Regions from separate parts of the Homo sapiens genome. Here region 2 is linked to region 1. The links come from fine-mapping of genetic effects on gene expression. A gene starts in region 1. The other region holds a variant in brackets. All regions are shown on one strand. Distances are between the middles of the regions.

What was found. PIP is the estimated chance that this variant, and not a neighbour inherited with it, causes the effect.
Region 2: its variant is the best candidate, but not a certain one, in a credible set for the expression of CCNT2-AS1 in neural progenitor cells (Aygun 2021, PIP 0.58).

What each region holds. Positions count from the first base shown.
Region 1 is chr2:134,916,138-134,920,137 of GRCh38, forward strand. CCNT2-AS1 (CCNT2 antisense RNA 1) reads right to left here and starts at 2,469. Exons shown (of 5, transcript NR_036549.1): 1 at 2,426-2,469. CCNT2 (cyclin T2) reads left to right here and starts at 2,685. Exons shown (of 9, transcript NM_058241.3): 1 at 2,685-2,875; 2 at 3,673-3,754. The coding sequence starts at 2,718. RefSeq lists enhancers at 1,595-1,644, 1,654-2,327, 2,405-2,564, 2,715-2,984, 3,195-3,284 and a silencer at 2,325-2,394.
Region 2 is chr2:134,844,588-134,849,108 of GRCh38, forward strand. ACMSD (aminocarboxymuconate semialdehyde decarboxylase) reads left to right here. Exons shown (of 10, transcript NM_138326.3): 2 at 646-690. Among named protein-coding and RNA genes, the nearest start is that of ACMSD, 8.2 kb to the left of the region's middle. The variant C/T (reference allele first, on the strand shown) is at 2,810.

The sequences.
Region 1 (4,000 bases):
CTCTATCACCCAGGCTGGAGTGCAGTGGAGTGATCTCGGCTCACTGCAACCTCTGCCTCCTGGGTCCAAGCAATTCTCGTGTCCCAGCCTCCCAAGAAGCTGGGATTACAGGCATGCACTACCGCACCCAGCTAATTTTTGTATTTTTAGTAGAGACAAGGTTTCCCCATGTTGGCCAGGCTGGTATTGAACTCCTGGCCTCAAGCAATCTCCCACCTTGGCCTCCCAAAGTGCTGGGAGTATAGGTGTGAACCACTGCGCCCTGCCTAGATCCATATCTAAGTACAGGTTGAGTATCCCTAAATCTGAGAATCAGAAACACTCCAAAACCCAAAACTTCAAGCCCCCACATGACATTCAAAGGAAATGTTCATTGGCGCATTTCAGATTTAGAATTTTTGGATTAGGATGCTCAATGGCTAAGTTTATAATTCAAATATTTCAAAACCTAAAAAAACCTGAAATCCAAAACACATCTGGTCTCAAGCATTTCAGATACGTGATACTCAACCTGTATTACTTTGGGAGACGGTACTATTGTAAATGGCATTTTTAAATTATAAATTCCAATTGTTCATTGCTGGTGTATAGGAAAACTGACTTTTGTATTCAACCTTATATCCTAAAATTTTACAGAAGAAGTTTTATGTCTTCCTTCCCAATATGTATATACTTTTAATTTACTTTTCTTGTTAGCTAGAACACCCAGTACCACGTTGAAAAGACTGGTGAGAGGGGACATGCTTGCCTTGTGTCAGACTTTAGGTGGAAAGAATGTAGTTTCTCACAACAGAAACAATCTATTGTTAGCTGCAGAATTTTTGTAGATGCTCTTTATCAAGTTGAGGAAGTTCTCCTTTATTCCCAGTTTGCTGAGTTTTTATCATGAATGGATGTTGAGGATGGGCACTTCTTTTATTTGTGTGTGTGTGTGACAGGATCTCACTCTGTCACCCAGGCTGGGGTGCAACCTCACCTCTCAGGTTGAAGCGATACTCCCAAGGAGCTAGGACTACAGACGCCACCACATCCAGCTAATTTTTTAAAAAACTTTTGTAGAGGTGGGGTCTCATTATGTTGCCCAGGCTGGTCTAGAACACTTTGGCCTCCCAAAGTGCTGGGATTACAGCCGGGAAACACTGCACCTGGCCAAGGGTTTGCACTTTTAAAATGTTGCTTTAAATCAATCTATTCCAGAAATTGTAAGCAACATAAAACGTAAAGCAAGGGAAGTGAGTATGAAATAGCAACTGTTACAAAAACTGCCTACTATAATCAATATTCTTGTGCAATGCAGTATGCTGAGCGTGGGAGCCCCATAACAATCACTTGCCTCCATGGTCTTTGGCAAATAGATATTACTTTATTTTTTATTTTCGAGACAAGGTCTTGCACTATCGCCCAAGCTGGGGTGCAGCAGCGAGATCTAGCTCACCGCAGCCTCCACCTCCTGGGCTCAAGCCATCCTCCCACTTCAGCCTCGGGAGTAGCTGGGACTACAGGCGCGCCACCAAACCTGGCTAATTTTTGTATTTTTGGTAGAGACGGGGTATCGCCATGTTGCCCTTGCCCTCGAACTCCTGACCTCAAGTGATCGGCCCACTGGACCTCCCCAAGTGCTGAGATTACAGGCGTGAGCCACCGTGCCCGGCCTCCAAATAGTTAAGACTTTAAACTTAGAAACCCTATTCACAACACAAACTCCGAGTGAAGCTCAGTGGCATTTTCTTACAGGAAGAAATACAGGAGTTAATCAACAGGTATGTGGGATGTTCCCACATCAAATCCTAAAGATAAAATTTTAACTCAGTTCCTCCTGCACTATCTGATTCTCCCCAACCTTGTCTCGCAGAAACCACAGCGCAGCCTGAAAACACGCCCCGTCTAGATTCAACACCTCATTTAGAAATTCAATTTCTCGTTGCTAGTTGGATAGCGTTTGCCAAGTAATTTGAAAAAATAAAAATAAACCAAGTGGTCTGGGATTTAAACAAGATAATGTAGGGTGAAAAAAGCACTCAGGTGCGGACAGCCATGGAGCGTGACTTCCTGTGCACTCTTTCCCCGCCAGCTCAACGCCAGAGCCGCGCGCTAGGCGGAGACTGTTGGTGGCGGAGGCCGGAGTCGCACGCCTACGAGACTGCGCGGACCCGCCCAAAAGGAAAATGGAAGTAGTGGCGTGAGGCTGCGACAGTGAAGGTTATTTTTCTCTTTTTAAAGGGCCGCTAGACCTCCCGTCTAAAGGAAGCGCCCGACGGGCCTCCGAAGTACACGCCCAGGCCCCCACAGCGCAGCCGCCCGACCGCCTCTCTTCACACCGGCCAGAGTCCACCCTCTCCCACTTTCCCCTCCCCTCCCCTCCCCGCCCCTTCCCTCCCCACCCCTTCGCCCCGCCAACCCTAGACCCGGCATGCGCTGCGCCGACCTTTTCCTTCCGAGCCGACCTCTCCACCTTCGGCGCCTCCCAATGACAAGCGGCGCGGAGCATTGTGGTCCCGTGCGCAAGAGCGAGGCCGAGGGCAGAAAAAGAAAGCAAAAGACTAGGGCGAGTCGGTAGAGCGGGCCCCGCGCATGCGCAAGGGCGGAGGCGGTGGTGAAAAAGGGTGGTGCGTGGTCTACGGCGAGCGGAGTGGGGCGGGGTCGCGCGCCTTGGCGGGGAGTCCGCGAGCCAGGAGGGGCGGGGGGTGAATGAAGGAGCGGGCGGAGGAGGAAGTGTCATGGCGTCGGGCCGTGGAGCTTCTTCTCGCTGGTTCTTTACTCGGGAACAGCTGGAGAACACGCCGAGCCGCCGCTGCGGAGTGGAGGCGGATAAAGAGCTCTCGTGCCGCCAGCAGGCGGCCAACCTCATCCAGGAGATGGGACAGCGTCTCAATGTGTATCCTTTTCTGTTCGCCGCCGCTCACGCCCTGTTTCCCTTGCCCGGTCGCCGGGCCTGGTGCCCCGCGAACATGGCGCCGCCGGCCTCGGCCTTCGCTGGGCCTCGGCGCCGCGGTCAGGGAAGTAATGTTCCGGCTCGGGCAGTCGCGAGGGGTCAGCAGAGGAAGGGAGGAGGAGATAGGACCCCAGGAATGCGGGCCAGGAGCCTGCGTTGTGTAATCTGTTTGGGGCAGCGCGTGGTGGTGGCGGCGGGGGTTGGGAGTGTGGCTCAGGCGAAAGAGGAATTTTAGGGATTATTGCAGAAAAGGGGCGGCTCCCTGGACTTGTCCCTGACCCCGAAGGGTTTGAGAGGTAGGAGGGTTAGCGATGCTGAAAGGCCTAAGTGTTTGCCGCAGCCTTTCCCGGCTCTCGTCGCCGGCTTGATGGCGGCTCTCTTCTACCTTGGGAGCGTACTGGAGTTCTTTATGTTCTTGGCGTGGTTTTGTATGGGTGTGTGCGCGCGCGTTTCAACTGTTTCATTTTGAGTTTAGTTAGTCGTAGCCATTGATAAATAGTTCCAGGGCCCTCAGCGCTGTTAGAGTGAAAAGATCAGCAGTTCTTATTCCCATTTATTTGGCGTCAAGCCTATTCTCTTCCTGCCGCCCCACCCCCCGCGGGCATTTATTTCTTTATTTCCAGTTTGGGGTTTGGATTTGAATGGGAGGTATTGGAAAAGAACCTGGGAATTTTCCATCAAAATTGTTCTGGGAATGAGATCTTGCTTTTGTCAGATATTTCCTAAATATTACGTTCCAGCTCTCAGCTTACAATAAACACTGCGATTGTTTATATGCACAGGTTTTATATGCACCATTCTTTCACCAAATTCAACAAAAATGTAAGTACTAGTTGTCTGTTTTTACTGTCCGCAAATTTGAGGGTAAATCGATACGCAGAAAAAAAGTTGGTCATTGCGTTGTTGGATTTAGTGTTCTGAATTAACGGTAAACGTATATCACGTGATAAATATTTTGCTTCAGATGCGGTGTTTTTGTGTTTTTAAAATTTATGATGAATTAAACTGCAAGGCACTGTTAAGCTCTGCCAGGCCTTTTAAGCTAAAAAAGAAAAACATTTATTTCTT
Region 2 (4,521 bases), 71 kb before region 1:
TGGGCCAAGGGGATGCAGGGGGCTAATTTCTTAGTACTTCTGACCTACTAGGATGGCTTGATCAAAGCAGGTTCCAGGAGAAAGCCCTCAGCCAGTGAAATGCAGGCGCTGGCTGATGGAGGTGGGCTGGCATGCACAGAAGTGTGAAAGCAAAGGGATATGAGCGGGACACCAACAGCATCTGCTACATACATGATTTCCTGTTTTAAAATGTTTGAGTCCCTATCCACTAAACTGATATCACAATCTACTCATGGATTGCAACCCACAGTTTGAAAAGCAGTGTATTTCCTAAAGAGTGGTCCTTAGGAGCTATGTACTCCTGGTAGCCTGTGAAATGATTTTAGGTGGCACATGAACAATATTTTTTCATGTTAATCTTTATTTTAAAAATTCAAGCTGCATTAGGGGAAAAGATAAAACCAGCACTGCTGAGATAACAGTATTTTCTTCTTGTATAAATATATTGAAGGAAAAATGTAAGTGAATTTAATTGTAAATACTAAATAGGCGATACATGGGTATGGGGGAAATGGGAAGGCAATGCTTGAAAGGTGGAGCTCAGGATCTTCTGCACTTAGCATGCCCCTTGATTGCAGCCTGGTCTTTGCTCTTTGACTCTAACTGTGCTTCTCCCCACTGCAGAGGTTTGGCTACGGAGGCTGGGTGCAGCTCCAACACCACAGCAAGGTGAGTTTCTTCCAAAGTATGAACATCAGTAGCACTCAGGGAGAGCTGAGCCATGGGATACCTCACTGCAGGCTGGGCCTCCAGGGAACCCCACTCTTCTGCCCATGTATTAGCTTTGTTGTAGACAAGGGAACAGCACTGAGATTTCTCAGAATAATTGGGAAAAATGGAGGTGACTTCAAAGAGTAGTATTTAGGAAGATAAAATTGGAATTTGAGAACACATTAAAAGGTCTCTCTCTCTCTCTCTCTCTCTCTCTCTCTCTCTCTCTCTCTCTCCCCTCTCCCCACCCCCACCAACCAGTTTTAGCATTTATTGCTCTGCCTGGAGGAAGTGACCTAGTGCTCTCTACAGGTTATTACAGTATATTAAAGCTGACCAAATAAATGGGACAGTTAGGTTTGAGCACAAGCTGGAAAAATTGAACACTGGAGACAAAGGGGAGAAGACAGTGTTATTAAGGGTTGAGTTTGGTAAGAGGAAAAAGCAAAAAGAAGAAGGCTGTGGGCAAAGCCCTCTAGAAATAACGAGCCCCAAGAGTGAGCTGGGAGTCTAGATCTGCCCAGGGCATGGGTCTGACTTCATTTTCAGAGGCATCATATGTCCTCTCCGAGTTCAGAGGGAATATTCTTGAGCTTCCAGCTGGCATGCAGACATGACTAATGCAGGCTCTGGAGGACTTGTGGTCTGGAAATCTAGTTAATGTGCAGAGTTAACCCAATGCAGCATGGAAAGGTTAGGACTCCCTTTACATCAGGTGCTAAGGGGCAGAGATTTGGGCACCAAGGATCAGAGAAGGCCTTCTGGAGGAAATGATGCCCATCCCACATCTTAAAGCAGGCAGGGAGGCTTGCCCAGGGAATAAGGAAACCATGTTCTAGGAAAAGAAGAAAGGGAACAAAGGCATGAAATATTAAACATATGTAAGCTCAGAATTCAAGCACTCAGCTACCAGCATTTCTCAAACTGTGGTCCCACAACCAGTTTCACCATCACCTGGGAACTTGGGAGAAATGCAAATTTTCAGGCCCTACCCCAGTCCTACCAAATCAGAACTCTAGAGGTAGGGCAAGCAACCTGTTTTAACAAGCCTCCTGGTGATTCTGATGCACTGTCAAGGGTTTTTTAATTATTAATTTTTTTAAGGACAAAGTCTCGCTCTATTGCCCAGCTGGAGTGCAGTGATGCAATCACAGCTCACTTGCAGCCTCCAACTCTCAGGTTTAAGTGATCCTCCCACCTCAGCTTCCCAAGTAGCTGAGACTACAGGTACACACCACCATGCCCAGATCATTATTTTATTTTATTTTTTAGACAGGGGGTCTCACTATGTTGTCCAGGCTGACCTCGAACTCCTGGCCTCAAGTGGTCCTCCCACTTCAGCCTCCCAAAGTAGCACATTCAAGTTTGAGAACCACTGGCTCTCACACATTCATTCACTGACTCACTACTTTTTATTGAAACTTGTTTTGTGTCAGGCCCACCAACCTAGACACTGAGAATATGCTGGTGAACAAGATAGACATAGTCCCTGCTCTGATAGTGCTCAGATTCCAGGGGTCACAAGTCAACATGATCAATTCAGAGAATGGAATATAAAGCAGCGATGTGATAGAGAGCAAGAGGCTGGCTGGTCTGTGACCTGGCAAAGGCTTCGAGGATGAGAAGGGAACACTTTTCCAAGTGGGGGAACAGCAGTTGCAAAGGCCACCAAGTGGTAAAGAGTTGATGTGTTCAAGGAACAGAAAGGAGGGCAATGTGGCTGAAATGCAGTGAAAGGGGGAGATAGTAGGAAATGGGCTGGCAAGGTAGGCAGAGGCCCAGCCACATGGGGACTTGCAGGGCACGCTAAAGAGTCTGGATTGCATTCTCAAAACAATGCAAATTCTTCGGAGGGTCTTAATGGCTTTAAAAGACCACTTTGGTTGCTCTGTGGAGAACACATAGAGGCAGACAAGAGTAGGGAGAGTGAAAAAGAGGCAAAAAGATGGAGAGGAAGCCAGAAACCTCATCAGACAGGGCCATGAAGGATTTAGGGGTTTAGGCCCCAAAATGAGCTTAGGTCTTTGAACTTGATCCTGAAGACAGTGGGGAACCACTAAAGAGTTTTTTGGGGATA[C/T]AGATAGATAGATAGATAGATAGATAGATAGATAGATAGATAGATAGATAGATATAGATAGAGATAGAGATAGATATATATACTTTAAGTTCTGGGATCCATGTGCAGAATGTGCAGATTTGTTACATAGGTATACAAGTGCCATGGTGGTTCACTGCACCCATCAACTCGTCATCTACATTAGGTATTTCTCCTAATGCTATCCGTCCCCTAGACCCCCATCCCCCGACAGGCCATGGTGTGTGATGTTTCCCTCCCTGTGTCCATGTGTTCTCATTGTTCAACTCCCACTTATGAGTGAGAACATGCAGTGTTTGGTTTTCTGTTCCTGTGTTAGTTGCTGGGAATGATGGTTTCCAGCTTCATCCATGTCCCTGCAAAGGACATGAACTCATCCTTTTTTATGGCTGTATAGTATTCCATGGTATATATATGCCACATTTTCTTTTCTTCTTTTTCTTTTTTTTTTTTTGAGATGGAGTTTCGCTCTTGTCACACAGGCTGGAGTGCAATGGCACAATCCTGGCTCACCGCAACCTCTGCCTCCCGGGTTCAAGTGATTCTCCTGCCTCAGGCTCCTGAGTAGCTGGAATTACAGGCATGTGCCACCATGCCCAGCTAATTTTGTATTTTTAGTAGAGACAGGGTTTCTCCATGTTGGTCAGGCAGGTCTTGAACTCCCAACCTCAGGTGATCTGCTCGCCTTGGCCTTCCAAAGTGCTGGGATTACAGGCGTGAGCCATTGCACCCAGCCAGCCACATTTTCTTTATCCAGTCTATCATCGATGGGCATTTGGGTTGGTTCCAAGTCTTTGCTATTGTGAATAGTGCTGCAGTAAACATACGTGTGCATGTGTCTTTATAGTAGAATGATTTATAATCCTTTGGGTATATACCCAGTGATGAGATTGCTGGGTCAAATGGTATTTCTGGTTCTAGATCCTTGAGGAATCGCCACACTGTCTTCTACAATGGTTGAACTAACTTACACCCCCACCAACAGTATAAAAGCATTCCTATTTCTCCACATCCTCTCCAGCATCTGTTGTTTCCTGACTTTTTAATGATAGCCATTCTAACTGGCATGAGATGGTATCTCATTGTGGTTTTGATTTGCATTTCTCTAATGACCAGTGATGATGAGCTTTTTTGCATGTTTGTTGGGCACATAAATGTCTTCTTTTGAGAAGTGTCTGTTCATATCCTTCGCCCACTTTTTGATGGGGTTGTTTTTTTTCTTGTAAATTTGTTTAAGTTCCTTATAGATTCTGGATATTAGCCCTTTGTCAGATGGATAGATTGCAAAAGCTTCCTCCCATTCTGTGGGTTGCTGTTCACTCTGATGATAGTTTATTTTGCTATGCAGAAGCTCTTTAGCATTTGTCAATTTTGGCTTTTGTTGCCATTGCTTCCGGTGTTTTAGTCATGAAGTCTTTGCCCATGCCTATGTCCTGAATGGTACTGCTTAGGTTTTCAAGAATTTTAAACATCACTGTCTCTGAGGCAGCCCATCCTCACCTTCTTGTGTGTCCACTAAGTGCCAATTCAAACACTGTGCTTCACTTCTCCCATTCAAAATGCTAGTTCCTAGACCAGGATCTGATGCTCTAAGCTGGCCTCAAGTCTCTCCGAGGGAAAACATGATATAAATGGAGCTGACGGCAAAGCAGCTAGGAAGCCCCAGCTGCAGGGACAGGCAGCTGTGATTTTTT